2 linked regions of the Homo sapiens genome follow. Changing the gene in region 2 together with the main gene of any one other region gives a genetic interaction. Each region holds a gene or a part of one and is shown on either strand. Other genes may lie near its edges.

Evidence for each region. Genes that interact genetically often act in the same process or in processes that back each other up.
Region 1: of PLAU (region 2) and MAP2K1, changing one suppresses a phenotype caused by changing the other (phenotypic suppression), as found in Homo sapiens cells (one study listed by BioGRID).

Annotation. Positions count from the first base shown.
Region 1 is NC_000015.10:66,382,416-66,389,911, reverse strand, and holds the start of MAP2K1 (dual specificity mitogen-activated protein kinase kinase 1), read right to left. Parts: upstream 3,001-7,496; 5' UTR 2,565-3,000; coding exon 2,485-2,564; intron 1-2,484. UniProt on the Homo sapiens protein: Dual specificity protein kinase which acts as an essential component of the MAP kinase signal transduction pathway.
Region 2 is NC_000010.11:73,913,604-73,918,829, reverse strand, and holds the end of PLAU (urokinase-type plasminogen activator isoform 1 preproprotein), read right to left. Parts: coding exon 5,072-5,226; intron 4,851-5,071; coding exon 4,702-4,850; intron 4,055-4,701; coding exon 3,914-4,054; intron 3,580-3,913; coding exon 3,431-3,579; intron 3,260-3,430; exon of another isoform or gene 3,209-3,259; intron 2,442-3,208; coding exon 2,265-2,441; 3' UTR 1,336-2,264; downstream 1-1,335. UniProt on the Homo sapiens protein: Specifically cleaves the zymogen plasminogen to form the active enzyme plasmin.

The DNA of each region.
Region 1 (7,496 bases), on a different chromosome or scaffold from region 2:
CTAAACCTAAGCCTTAGACTAAAAGACTTGAACCAGGTCACAAAACCACAACAGAGGCCGGGCTGTAATCCCAGCACTTTAGGAGGCTGAGGTGGGAGGATCACGAGGTCAGGAGTTTGAGACCAGCCTGACCAACAGGGTAAAACCCTGTCTCTATTAAAATACAAAAATTAGCCAGGCACGGTTGCACGTGCCTGTAGTCTCAGCTAGTTAGGAGGCTGAGGCAGGAGAATCGCTTGAAGCCGGGAGGTGGAGGTTGTGGTGAGCCGAGATCGCACCACTGCACTCTGGCCTGGGCAACAGAGCGAGACTGTCAAAAAAAAAAAAAAAAAAAAAAAACCACAACAGAGCTAGGCTTCAAACTTAGCCTGACTCCAGAGCCCTTACCTTTTAACCACTGTTTAGACTCTCCCAGTACCATCCAAATTTTTCTGCCACCAAATCTGGGGTAGTTTCTTCTCATCCTGCTTTTACTGTTTTAATGAAATTCCTCCTCCTTGAGAGAATACAGTTGTGGTATCACGATTACAACAGAATGATAACAGGTACTTCTACTCAGTATCCACTTCCAAATCAAATAGGAAAGGATAATGAGGCCATAACACTCAGCCAGAATCCACTGTGGTCAAAACTTGTCCTAACAACAGTCATGACTTTCAGTCTATTTTAAGAGGGTGAAACACTGTATACTAAAACTGAACAAATGGGCTGGGCACGGTGGCTCATGCCTGTAATCCCAGCATTTTCGGAGGCCGAGGCAGGTGGATCACCTGAGGACGGGAGTTTGCCACCAGCCTGAACAACTTGGAGAAACCCCATCTCTACTAAAAATACAAAATTAGCCGGGCATGGTGGCGCATGCCTGTAATCCCAGCTACTCGGGAGGCTGAGGCAGGAGAGTCGCTTGAACCCGGGAGGCAGAGGCTGCAGTTAGCCAAGATCGCACCATTGCACTCCAGCCTGGGCAACAAGAGTGAAACTCCGACTCAAAAAAAAAAAAAAAAAAAGAACAAATGTTTGCAATGCAATAATGCAATCCAACTACCTATACAAGTCAGTATTATGCAAAATAGACCCCACAGGATTGAGAGGGGACTAAAGAAGAGAGTCTGTTGGGAGCAGGTCTGAAAAACACAGCTGAACACACACCACAGGTCCACCATCGACCTTGTGATCATTACAGGGATGGAACAAGTCATCAAGCCAACAGGTCCCCGGGTTATTAAAATCTAGAGAAAGTTGGCTGGGCATAGTGGCTCATGCCTGTAATCCCAGCACTTTGGGAGGATCGCTAGAGTCCAGGAGTTCAAGACCAGCCTAAGCAATATAGCAAGACCCCATCTGTATAAAAGTTTAAAAAATAAAATTTTCTAAAAATCTAGAGAAAGGAAGGGAGGTTACAGAAATCACCAAAGAGCATAAGGTCCAAGCCTATTCTGATTTCATCAATTAGCTTCCTAAAGTCTGCAGTGTGCAGGTAAAAGATTAAGAACCCAATCCTTATTGAAGGTTGGGCAAACAACAACCAAAAAAAGGCAAAAAAATAATAATAACCTAATCTTTTCTGGCTATTTCTCTAGCTAGCTAAGCAGCTTTCCCTCACATAGTCTTGTCCCTTACCTAGAACCCAAGAGAGTTGTGGGAGCTCAGAAACCCCCAGGAAACAGACTCATGATTATTTAATGAAATAAAGTGCTCGTTTGTAAGCAACGCTGGAAGCTGCAGAGATGGAGCACCTAGCATGTGGTTTCTAGGTCATGGTGTTCATGCCTCAGGTCAGGAGTTTAGGGGCTCCTGGTGAAGTACGGAAAGCTAGGAAATCATTAGTGAGAAAATGGTTTGTTCAATGAATGAATGAAGAGTAGGATGAAGAAGAAAGCCGCTTTCTTGAGCAATTTCCCAGGAAGGCCAAGTACCAGGAACCTCCAAAGTCAGCAAGGAAAAGCCACGAAGTCCACACGGACTTCCAGCACGCCCCCGCTGGCCAGGCAGTTGGCCTGCAACAAGGCACTCAGGCCCCACAGGTGTCAGGCATGAAGGTGAGGATGATGCTCCACACTTAATACCCTGAGCTGGTCTCAAAAGCACAGATGCGATCTTAATTCTTTCCAAAACATTAGCCTCCTCTCCCCGTTACAGGCCAGACTCCCAGATGATCACATTTAGAACAGAACTGGGAGGAGGCAGGGGAGACGTGCTAGCTTTTATTTTCTTGGGAGAAGACTGTACAGTGGCCAGGAACCACTAAAACGGTCGGGAAAAGGGGTACAGAGAGGAATGGAGACCCGCGGGATCCGCTAACTGGTCTGAGTCAGGAACACAATCAGTGCTTAGTCACCGATACCTCGGCGGCCGGGAGTTTCTCGCCCCCTGCCAGCCCCAGACGTACGTGACAAACCAGATCGGAGCCTGGCGCGCGCTCCTGCTCCCCGGCTCGGGCCTCCCCAGCCGGGCCCCGAGGTTCACCGCCCGCCCCATACTTACTCCGCAGAGCTGGTCCCGTTAACTGCAGAGCCGTCGGGGGCCGGGTTCAGCTGGATGGGCGTCGGCTTCTTCTTGGGCATTTTGGACCCGGGTAACGCGCTTCCAACTCCGGGGGGAGGGCAGCACCTCTCGCTTCCTCCCGCTGCGCTGCCCCGCGCCCGCTGCGCAGGACCAAGTCCGGGCCGCGGGCCCCGGGGCTGCCTTCAGCGGGTGCGCCCCGCGCGGTCCCGTCAGCGCCGAGGGGCCGGTAGCGGTCTCAGTGGACCCCCGCCCCACCCGCCCGGGACTCGGCTTCGCGCGCAGAGAGCCGAAAGGCTGCCCTGCAGGAGCGGAGCGGGCTGAACGTGCGGTTCGGCAGCCCGGGATTCCCTTCCTCTCTCTCTCTCAACCAACCAGTCCCTCCGGCTCGGGCGGCACAGCCGCGCGCGCACCAGAGCCCAGCTCCAGCTCCTGCCGGGGAAAGTGCCGCCGCCGCCGTGCTCCTAGCCGCTCTGCGAAGCGGCCCTGGGAGGGACTGGAGGCCGGGGGAGGGGCGGGGAAGGGGAAGCCTCGCCTCCCACCCGGGATGCGGCGCTTTCCACACTCCCACTCGGCTCCGCCCCTATTGCCTCGCAGACAACCAATGGGGGCAAGCCTCGGCGGCAGATGACGCGGAAATACGTCACGGGAGCGCGGCGCACTGCCTGGGGGCGGGGTCCGTCGCGGACGCCGTGGCGCCCTCTGTCGCCCCGAGGCAAGCAGGTGGACCCAGCTGAGAAGAAGTCTGTGTCGCTGTGTGGTGAGCTCTCCAGGCCAGGTGCCGCGCGGCCTCCACCTCTGCGGTAACCGGCCTGCCCCCGACCCCTGTCCCCAAGCCGAGCCGTGTTGACGAAAATGAAATAACAAAATAAATAAGGAAAAGGACCCCTTCCTGTGTCCAGAGGAGAGGCAGCGTGGGGAATAGGAAACTTGTCGAGAGGCTCCTTTGAGCCCAACAAACTGACGCATATAAATTTTGTTTGTTTAATGGTAATACTACTGAGAAGGGTGCAAGGAAATGGATACTCAGTGCTGATGAGATTGTAAATTGTTGCGACAGTTTTTGAGAGCAGATTGATGATTTTTTTTTTTTTAGACTTGGGAACTTTTTTTTTTTTAAGACGGTGTCTCCCTCAGTTGCCCAGCCTGGAGTGTAGTGGCGCGATCTCCGCTAACTACCACCTCTGCCTCCCACGTTCAAGCGATTCTCCTGCCTCAGTCTCCTGAGTAGCTGGGATTACAGGCACTCGCCGTCATGCCCGGATCCTTTTTGTATTTTTGTAGAAACGGGTTTTCACCATGTTGGCAATATTTTTTTAAAGCCTTAAAAACACTCTTTCGGGCCAGGAGCGGTGGCTCACGCCTGTAATCCCAATTTTGGGAGGCCCAGGCAAGAGGATCACTTGAGCCCAGGAGTTCGAGACTAGCCTGGGCAACATAGTGAGTCCCCCGTCTCTATTAGCTGGGCATGGTTGTGTGCAGCTGTCGTCCAAGCTACTGAGGAGGCTGAGGCTGGAGGATCACTTGAGCCCAGGAGTTTGAGGCTGCAGTGAGCTATGATCACACCACTGCACACCAGCCAGGGCTACAGAGCAAGACTCCCTTTAAAAAAACTTTCATCCAGGCCAGGCGCGGTGGCTCACGCCTGTAATTCCAGAACTTTGGGAGGCCGAGACGGGTGGATCACGAGGTCAGGAGTTCAAGACCAGCCTGGCCAAGATGGTGAAACCCATCTCTACTAAAAATACAAAAAATTAGCTGGGCGTGGTGGCGGGTGCCTGTAATCCCAACTACTTGGGGGGCTGAGGCAGAGAATTGCTTGAACTCGGGAGGCGGAGGTTGCAGTGATCCAAGATCACACCACTGCACTCCAGCCTGGGCGACAGAGTGAGACCCCGTCTCAAAAAAAAAAAGAACTTTAATCCAAAAATTCCAATTCTGTGAATTACTAAAGAAATAAGATGTGAATAAAGAGCTTAATAAGAGGCACAATACCCATTTAAAAGTGCACATTCAGTGTTCCTCTTCCCCTTTCCCATCCTAAAATACTAAGTGTCAAAGACATTAGGTGTACAGAACAAAGGAAACGTGTACAGAACAAAGGAAACATCTACACCTGGTTATCCACAGCCAGGTGTTGGTGACCTAGCAGGTAAGGAGGCTGAGGAACCTGAGAAAATGAAGAGGGCTTGAACACCTGGGAGGCAGTCCTACACAAAGTCTTAGCCGTAGGGCCCAAGAGGGGAGAACAAGGCATCCAAGTGGGGAAGGCCTAGAAGCTTAGATGGGAGGTTAGTTGCATTCAGGATGGTTGATTAAGTCACTAAATATATTAAGCATGACAGAGCCAGCTTTCTCACTGTGGTAGAATGACGTTAGAAGTATGGGAAGGGAGAATACCTTACGCTATTGTATTGGAATTGGAGGTATCAGTGTGAACTCATTGTTTTGTTTTGTTTTTTGGGGGGGTGTTTTTGTTTTGTTTTGTTTTTGTTTTTGAGTGGCGTTTTGCTCTTTTTGCCCAGGCTTGAGTGCAATGGCGCAACCTTGGCTCATTGCAACCTCCACCTCCCAAGCTCAAGTGATTCTCCTGCCTCAGCCTCCCAAGTAGCTGGGATTACAGGCATGCACCACCATGCCTGGCTAATTTTGTATTTTTAGTAGAGACAGGATTTCACCATGTTGGCCAGGCTGGTCTCAAACTCCTGACCTCAGGTGATCCGCCCACCTCGGCCTCCCAAAGTGCTGGGTTTACAGGCGTGAGCCACTGCGCCCGGCCTGAACTCATAGTTTTTTAAAAAATAAATTATTCTGGGTGGATGCAGTGGCGGCTACCACCTGTAATCCCAGCACTTTGTGAGGCCAAAGCTGGAAGATCACTTGAGGTCAGGACTTCAAGATCAGCCTGGCCAACATGGTGAAACCCCGTCTCTACTAAATTACAAAAATTAGCCAGGCATGGTGGTGGGCACCTGTAATCCCAGCTACTCAGGAGGCTGAGGCAGGATAATTGCCTGAACCAGGGAGGCAGAGTTTGCAGTGAGCCGAGATTGCACCACTGCACTCCAGCCTGGGCAACAGAGCAAGACTCTGTCTCAAAAATAAATAAAATAGGCCGGGCGCGGTGGCTCATGCCTGTAATCCCAGCACTTTGGGAGGCTGAGGTGGGCAGATCACGAGGTCAGGAAATCGAGACCATCCTGGCTAACACGGTGAAACCCCATCTCTACTAAAAAATACAAAAAATTAGCCGGGCGTGGTGGTGGGTGCCTGTAGTCCCAGCTACTCAGGAGGCTGAGGCAGGAGAATGGTGTGAACCCGGGAGGTGGAGCTTGCAGTGAGCCGAGATCGCGCCACTGCACTCCAGCCTGGGCGACAGAACAAGACTCCGTCTCAAAAATAAATAAATAAATTAAATAAATAAAAATAAATTTTATTGTGTATATTTGAGGTTTGTAACATGATGTTATGGGATATATATAGATAGTAAAATGGTTACTATAGTGAAGTGAATTAACATATCTATACCGTCACATAAAGGCTTGTGTAAAGTATGACGAGCAGCTAAAATCTACTTATTTAACAAAAAACGCAAATAAAATACAATGTTATTAACTATGGTCTTCATGTTGTACATTAGATCTCTAGACTTCTTCATCCTACATATCTGCTGCTTTATATTCTTTGACCTACATCTCCCCATTTCTTTCCCCCATACTTTTTAATATAGAGGCATAGATGTAAATGTATGCATGTGTGTGTAGAAGTGTGTCCTTATTCATGTTAAACATGCATAATTTTTAGTATCAGAGTAAAATAATAAACATTAAAAAGTGAATTGAAGGCCAGGTGTGGTGGTGGCTCACACCTTTAATCCCAGCACTTTGGGAGGCTGAGGTGGGAGGATCACCTGAGGTCAGGAGTTCAAGACCAAGCCTGGCCAACATGGTGAAACCCTGTCTTTACTAAAAATACAAAAATTATCTGAATGTGGTGGCGGGTGCCTGTAGTCCCAGCTACTTGGGAGGCTGAAGCTGGAGAATCACTTGAACCCAGGAGGTGGAGGTTACAGTGAGCCAAGATCACTCCACTGTACTCCAGCCTGTGCAACACAGTGAGACTATCTCAAAAAAAAAAAAAAAATTGAAACTTTTCAAAGTAATCTATTATCAAGGCAGTCTATCTGAATTCTGGTATAATTTTATATTTACTAGTTCAAATAAAAACTATTAGGACTTTGAGCAATTAATTGAAATTTTCAAGGCCTCACTTCCACTCTGTGTAAAATGCAGCATTCTTTTTAATATTGAAATATTATGATTCTATGCATGCTGGGTTGGCCTCCACTGAGTAAACCCTAAGCCCTTATCATGATCCAAGAAGCCCAGATAAACAATTACCCCAATGGTTAAAGTTTGCAGAATAGTTCAAGGTAGGAGAATTTGTTTTCCTCATTTCCTTTTCAGACCGGCAGTGATCCATCGGTTCTGTCAACTTTTCCTGAGGGCCTAACATAAGTGCTGACCATACAGACAAGAATAAGACTGAACTATATGTGTATGAATCAGTGATGTATAATAATAAACACTGTAACATATATATTTGGTTGAACCATATCAGGTTGCTCTATTTGTAGGTCAAAAATGTTTGAATATTGGCAAATACTGGTTCATCCCATTTGTACACAGTGTAGCTAGATCACAAATGTGAAGATCCAAGAAATACAGGCCAGGTGTGGTGGCTCACTCCTGTCACTCCCGTAATCCCAGCACTTTGGAAGGCTGAGGCAGGTGGATGACTTGAGCCCAGGAGTTCAACACTAGCCTGGGCAATATGACGAAACCCCATCTCTACAAAAAATACAAATATTAGACAGGCATAGTGGCACATGCCTGCAGTCCCAGCTACTCTGGAGGCTGAGGTGGGATGATCGCTTGAGCCGAAGTCAAGGCTGCAGTGAGCCATGATCTTGCACACCAGCCTGGAAAACAGAA
Region 2 (5,226 bases):
AACCCATTAACACAGCTTGGCAATTCTAATTTTTGATACCCAATTATCTCCCAACCTGCCTTCTACACCCCAGCTTTTCAGAACTTGATGTTTTGTTCAAAATATATAGTCACCCCCATTAGGACATCATCCAGCTTTGAGATTCTGGGCCCCCTAATCATAGGCATAGCAATGGCTGGTCACAAGCTCTGTTAACACACTGAGAAAATTCCAGCATCAGTCCCACACACAGATGATGGGAAATTATGTTTTTTGTTTCCTGAATGCCACAGAGTCAAGCTGGCATTCTGGATAAGCAATTTTCTTTCTTTATTTATTTTTTTATTTATTTGAGGCGAAGTCTTCCCTCTGTCGCCCAGGCTGGAGTGCAGTGGTGCGATCTCGGCTCACTGCAACCTCTGCCTCCCGGGTTCAAATGATTCTCCTGCCTCAGCCTCCCGAGTAGCTGGGATTACAGGCACCCACCCCCACACCCGGCTAATTTTTTTGTATTTTTAGTAGAGATGGGGTTTCACTATGTTGGTCAGGCTGGTCTCAAACTCCTGACCTCAGGTGATCCACACACCTCGGCTTCCCAAAGTGCTGGATTACAGGCGTGAGCCACTGAGCCTGGCCAGCAATTTTCACTTACAGGTCTTCTTCTTCTTTTTTTTTTTTTTTTTTTTTTGAGACAGGGTCTTGCTCTGTCACCTAGGCTGGAGTGCAGTGGCACAATCAGCTGACTGTAAACTTGAACTCCTTGGCTTAGGATCCTCCTGCCTCAGCCTCCCAAGTAGCTAGGACTACAGACATGTGCTACCACACCTGGCTAATTTTTTTATTTTTTGCAGAGACAGGGTCTCACTAAGTTTCCCAGGCTGGTCTCAAACTCCTGGGCTCAAGCGATTCTCCCACCTCAGCCTCTCAAAATGTTAGGATTACAGGCATGAGCCACTACACCTGGCCACAGGTGTTCTTCTTGGTTGAGGTCAGCTCAAGGATTGTTGGGGGCAGAGTGAAGAGACTGTTGTGGAGTTAACCCTAAAGAAGACCACCATGTACAGCTGTACAAGATGTGCACTGCACAAAGGCATCAGGTTAAGGAGGCAATTGGGAGCTGACACTAAGCCTGTACACTACTTACACAGCCATGGGATTGTGGTTTGGGGAAACTTTGTATACATTAAGTGCTGTGGTGGCCCTGCCCTACAGCTCTCCTAACCTCTACCTCCCAAAGCTCCATTAAGTCCAGAGATGCAGTCCCATAAGAAACTCTAGGGTGCAGTCCACCTTTGTTATTTTCTCCTTTTTATGTACTCCAACTCCTTCCCATACAAGCACCAGGGAGATTTGTCATCAGAAAAATCACATTTTATTGATCACTTTTATTTAAAATTACAAAAATATAAATAAAAATAGTGAAATATAAATATTCAGTGTACAGGAGTGGTCCTCACCCCACCCAGTGAGGATTGGATGAACTAGGCTAAAAGGAAGGGATAACTGGCCAAGAAAGGGACATCTATGTGAAAGTGAAACTGAGACAGTGCTGGTCACAGGTCATGCTGCAGAATAATACATTCCCAGGCACTGTCACGTGGGGGACCCAAGAGGCCCCAGGAGTGACCTATAACCTCTCCAGAAAGACCACTCTGTGTGGCATCACAGTCCACACAGTTTAAGGAAATATTTAGACTTAACAATCAGACACCAGCTCTTACTCACACTTACACTCACAGCCCACACACAAGTGTGCAAACATACACACACATATATATTTCCTGATACATTCATGGAATATCAGAGCCCTGCCCTGAAGTCGTTAGTGTCTCTGCTCCCCAAACCGCTGCTCCCACATTGGCTAAGCTCCCTCAAGAGACCTCAGCTGTTACACTTCCTAATTGGGAAATTATTCATTTCTCAACCATGGGCCTCACAAATGCCCACCGTCGGGGGAGCTGGCTCTCCCTTCACCCATGCACAGGAGATGCCCTGCCCTTTTTAACTCCTGCAGGCTTCAGTCCAGAAAAAGACAAGTTGCTGGTCAGTAACATGTTGAGTCAGGACCACCCCTCCATCCTGGCCAGAGGGGTCTGGGCAGCCAGCACCCAGGCCTATGCCTGAGGGTAAAGCTATTGTCGTTCGCCCTGGTGGGTGGCACAGGCAAATCCATCTGTGCAGAGCCTATCTTCCCAGTCTCTTCTTACAGCTGATGGAGATGACTCTACTGCAAAAATGACAACCAGCAAGAAAGCGGGTGGTGCCCGTTTCCTCCCTGGGGACCCTCAGAGGGCCAGGCCATTCTCTTCCTTGGTGTGACTGCGGATCCAGGGTAAGAAGTGTGAGACTCTCGTGTAGACGCCTGGCTTGTCCTTCAGGGCACATCCACGGCCCCAGCTCACAATTCCAGTCAAAGTCATGCGGCCTTGGAGGGAACAGACGAGGGGTCCCCCTGAGTCTCCCTGTGACGCCAAAGATACAAAAGATGAGCCCTAGAGAAGTGAGGAGGGGATTTCTGATCCCATCACCCAACCATACCAGAGAGAGGGAAGAGTTTCCCAGTCAAAGTCCTTAGCGACTTCCCATTTTCTTTCTTTTTTTCGGGGGGAGGACAGAATCTCGCTCTGTCGCCCAGGCTGGCGTGCAATGACGTGATCTCAGCTCACTGCAAACTTGCCTCCTGTGCTCAAGCGATTCCCATGTCTCAGCCTCCTGATTAGCTGGGATTACAGGCAGGCACCACCACACCTGGCTAATTTTTTTTTGCATTTTTAGTAGACACAGGGTTTCACCATGTTGGCCAGGCCGGTCTCAAACTCCTGGCCTCAAGTGATCCATCCACCTCGGCCTCCCAAAGTGCTGGGATTACAGGCATGAGCCACTGTGCCTGACGCAGCCCCATTTTCTACCACATCAAGTTTAAAATCCCCTGCTTGGCTTTAAAAGCCCTGTCATCTGCCACTATTCCATCCACACTCCCAGACCCTAGTTCTCCTCCCCACCCGGAATATGCCAGCCTCCTTCTCAGTTTTGTATCTTTCAACTGAAACACCTTCCTTTCTTCCCTCTGCCTCTTCAAATGCCTATCAAGTCACATTTCCTTTAAAGCCTCCCCTCCCTGACCCTCAGGTTGGCACTCACCTCCCTCTCCTGAACACCTGATCATTTATAGTTCACAACACACCCTGGGCACTGAGTTACATTGTCTTTTACTGTTTCCTCTTTCTAGGATCTCGTGCCCCCAGTCTGAAGTGACTAGCGCAGAGCTGGGATTTTTTTGGTAATGTCTGGCAAACACATAAGGACTGGTTTAAACCCTCAAAGACCTGAGCTCCTGATTCTGGCTACTTAGGGCTTTGGCTAGAGAGAGACACCCTTAAGCTGGCTGGAACAAGCCCAGGAGCTCTGGGGAGATATGGAAGAGGTGGAGAGAGATGCTTGGAACACTCACCTGGCAGGAATCTGTTTTCCACTGTGGGTCAGCAGCACACAGCATTTTGGTGGTGACTTCAGAGCCGTAGTAGTGGGGCTGCTGACACTCCCGGTGGGAAATCAGCTTCACAACAGTCATTTTCAGCTGCTCCGGATAGAGATAGTCGGCTAGGTGGAGAAAACAGGGAGGCGTTTGCATCAAGATTTATCTGTCCACTGGGAGTCTGCCAGAGAGGGGAACCATAAAGTATCTCTACCAGGGAAGGCCCTTATTCTCTTCCATGCAAATCTGAGCCTTTACTCCACCTATAGCCCCTACCATCTATTTACCTTTGCAGCCCATCGCTCCCTAAACAACACTCTTCATCCATCCCTGGACCCATCTGCCACCGCCTCAGTGCTCCCACCTCTAACTCTGCAGTCTTCCCTTGATCACGCTGGGCTCATTTTCAGGTCAAAACACTCCTCAGGACCTTCTAAGTCAGTCGCAATTGTCACTTACTAGAATTCTCTTTTCCAAAGCCAGTGATCTCACAGCTTGTGCCAAACTGGGGATCGTTATACATCGAGGGCAGGCAGATGGTCTGTATAGTCCGGGATGGCTGCGCACACCTGCCCTCCTTGGAACGGATCTTCAGCAAGGCTGGGGGAGGACAGAGGGTCAGAGGAGAAAGATCACTACTGGTTAGGCGGTCCCCATCTGTCCCCTCCAAGTGCCGAGGAAGTAGCTATGCCTATCCCTAGGTCAGTCATCCAGGGAGGTCTGCTGGTCGCTTATCACCTGGAAACCTCCCCTGCCCCATGCCCCAAGGGCTTTGTTCCAGGTGTTGAAAAAGGCTTGGATGGCCAGAGCCACTGCATACAGCTGTACAGGTCGTTTCTGCAAAAACTCCCAGCTGAGGTAGTTAGGCTGGAATCCATCCCAAGGCTCCATTCTCCAAGTTCTATATCCTAGCACAGACAGAGGCTGCATCCCACAAAGGAAGGTGTGTCTTTTTCTAATTCATATAAACAGGGCCTTCCCAGCCCAAGCCATATACCCACAGGGCTGTTTCCACTCGCAAGAGGCTACTTGTTGGGGAAATTCAGGGTCTCTCCAGAGGAGCACCAGGCCCCTCAGACTTCATGGAACTCTTCCCTGCCACTCCCTTTGTCATGTATATCGAGGCTTCAAGGTCCCTCGCCCCACCCCTGCCCCACCGGGCAGCTTCAACCTCAGCTCCAGTCTCTCCCTGGGTCCCACTCTCCCCAAGCCATTATGGCCACAGTAGTCGCGGGGTTCCCCCTCACCAATGTCGTTGTGGTGAGCAAGCGTGTCAGCGCTGTAGTCCTTGTGTAGGATGAGGTTTTCCACCTCAAACTTCATCTCCCCTTGCGTGTTGGAGTTAAGCCTTGAGCGACCCAGGTAGACGATGTAGTCCTCCTTCTTTGGGTAATCACTGTGGGAGAAGATACCCATCAAACAGCTTAGTCCCATGAAATCTGCCACTTCTTCCTTCCCTCCCTAGAGGCCTCAAAGCACGACTTGTCCCCAAGGCCATGGGCTGCATGGACAGGGGCAGATGAGGGAGAAATGAGGCGGAACACTTTGCTGGGAAGGAGAAAGGGATGTGCTTGGGGTGGGGCAGAAGAGTCGAAGAGGAGAAACCCAGGGCCGTACATGAAGCAGTGTGTGGCGCTGATCACCCAGCAAGGGCTGATGAGGCTGCCTCCACACACGTAGGTGACAGAGCCCCCCCGGTGCCTCCTGTAGATGGCCGCAAACCAGGGCTGGTTCTCGATGGTGGTGAATTCTCCCCCAATAATCTTAAAGCG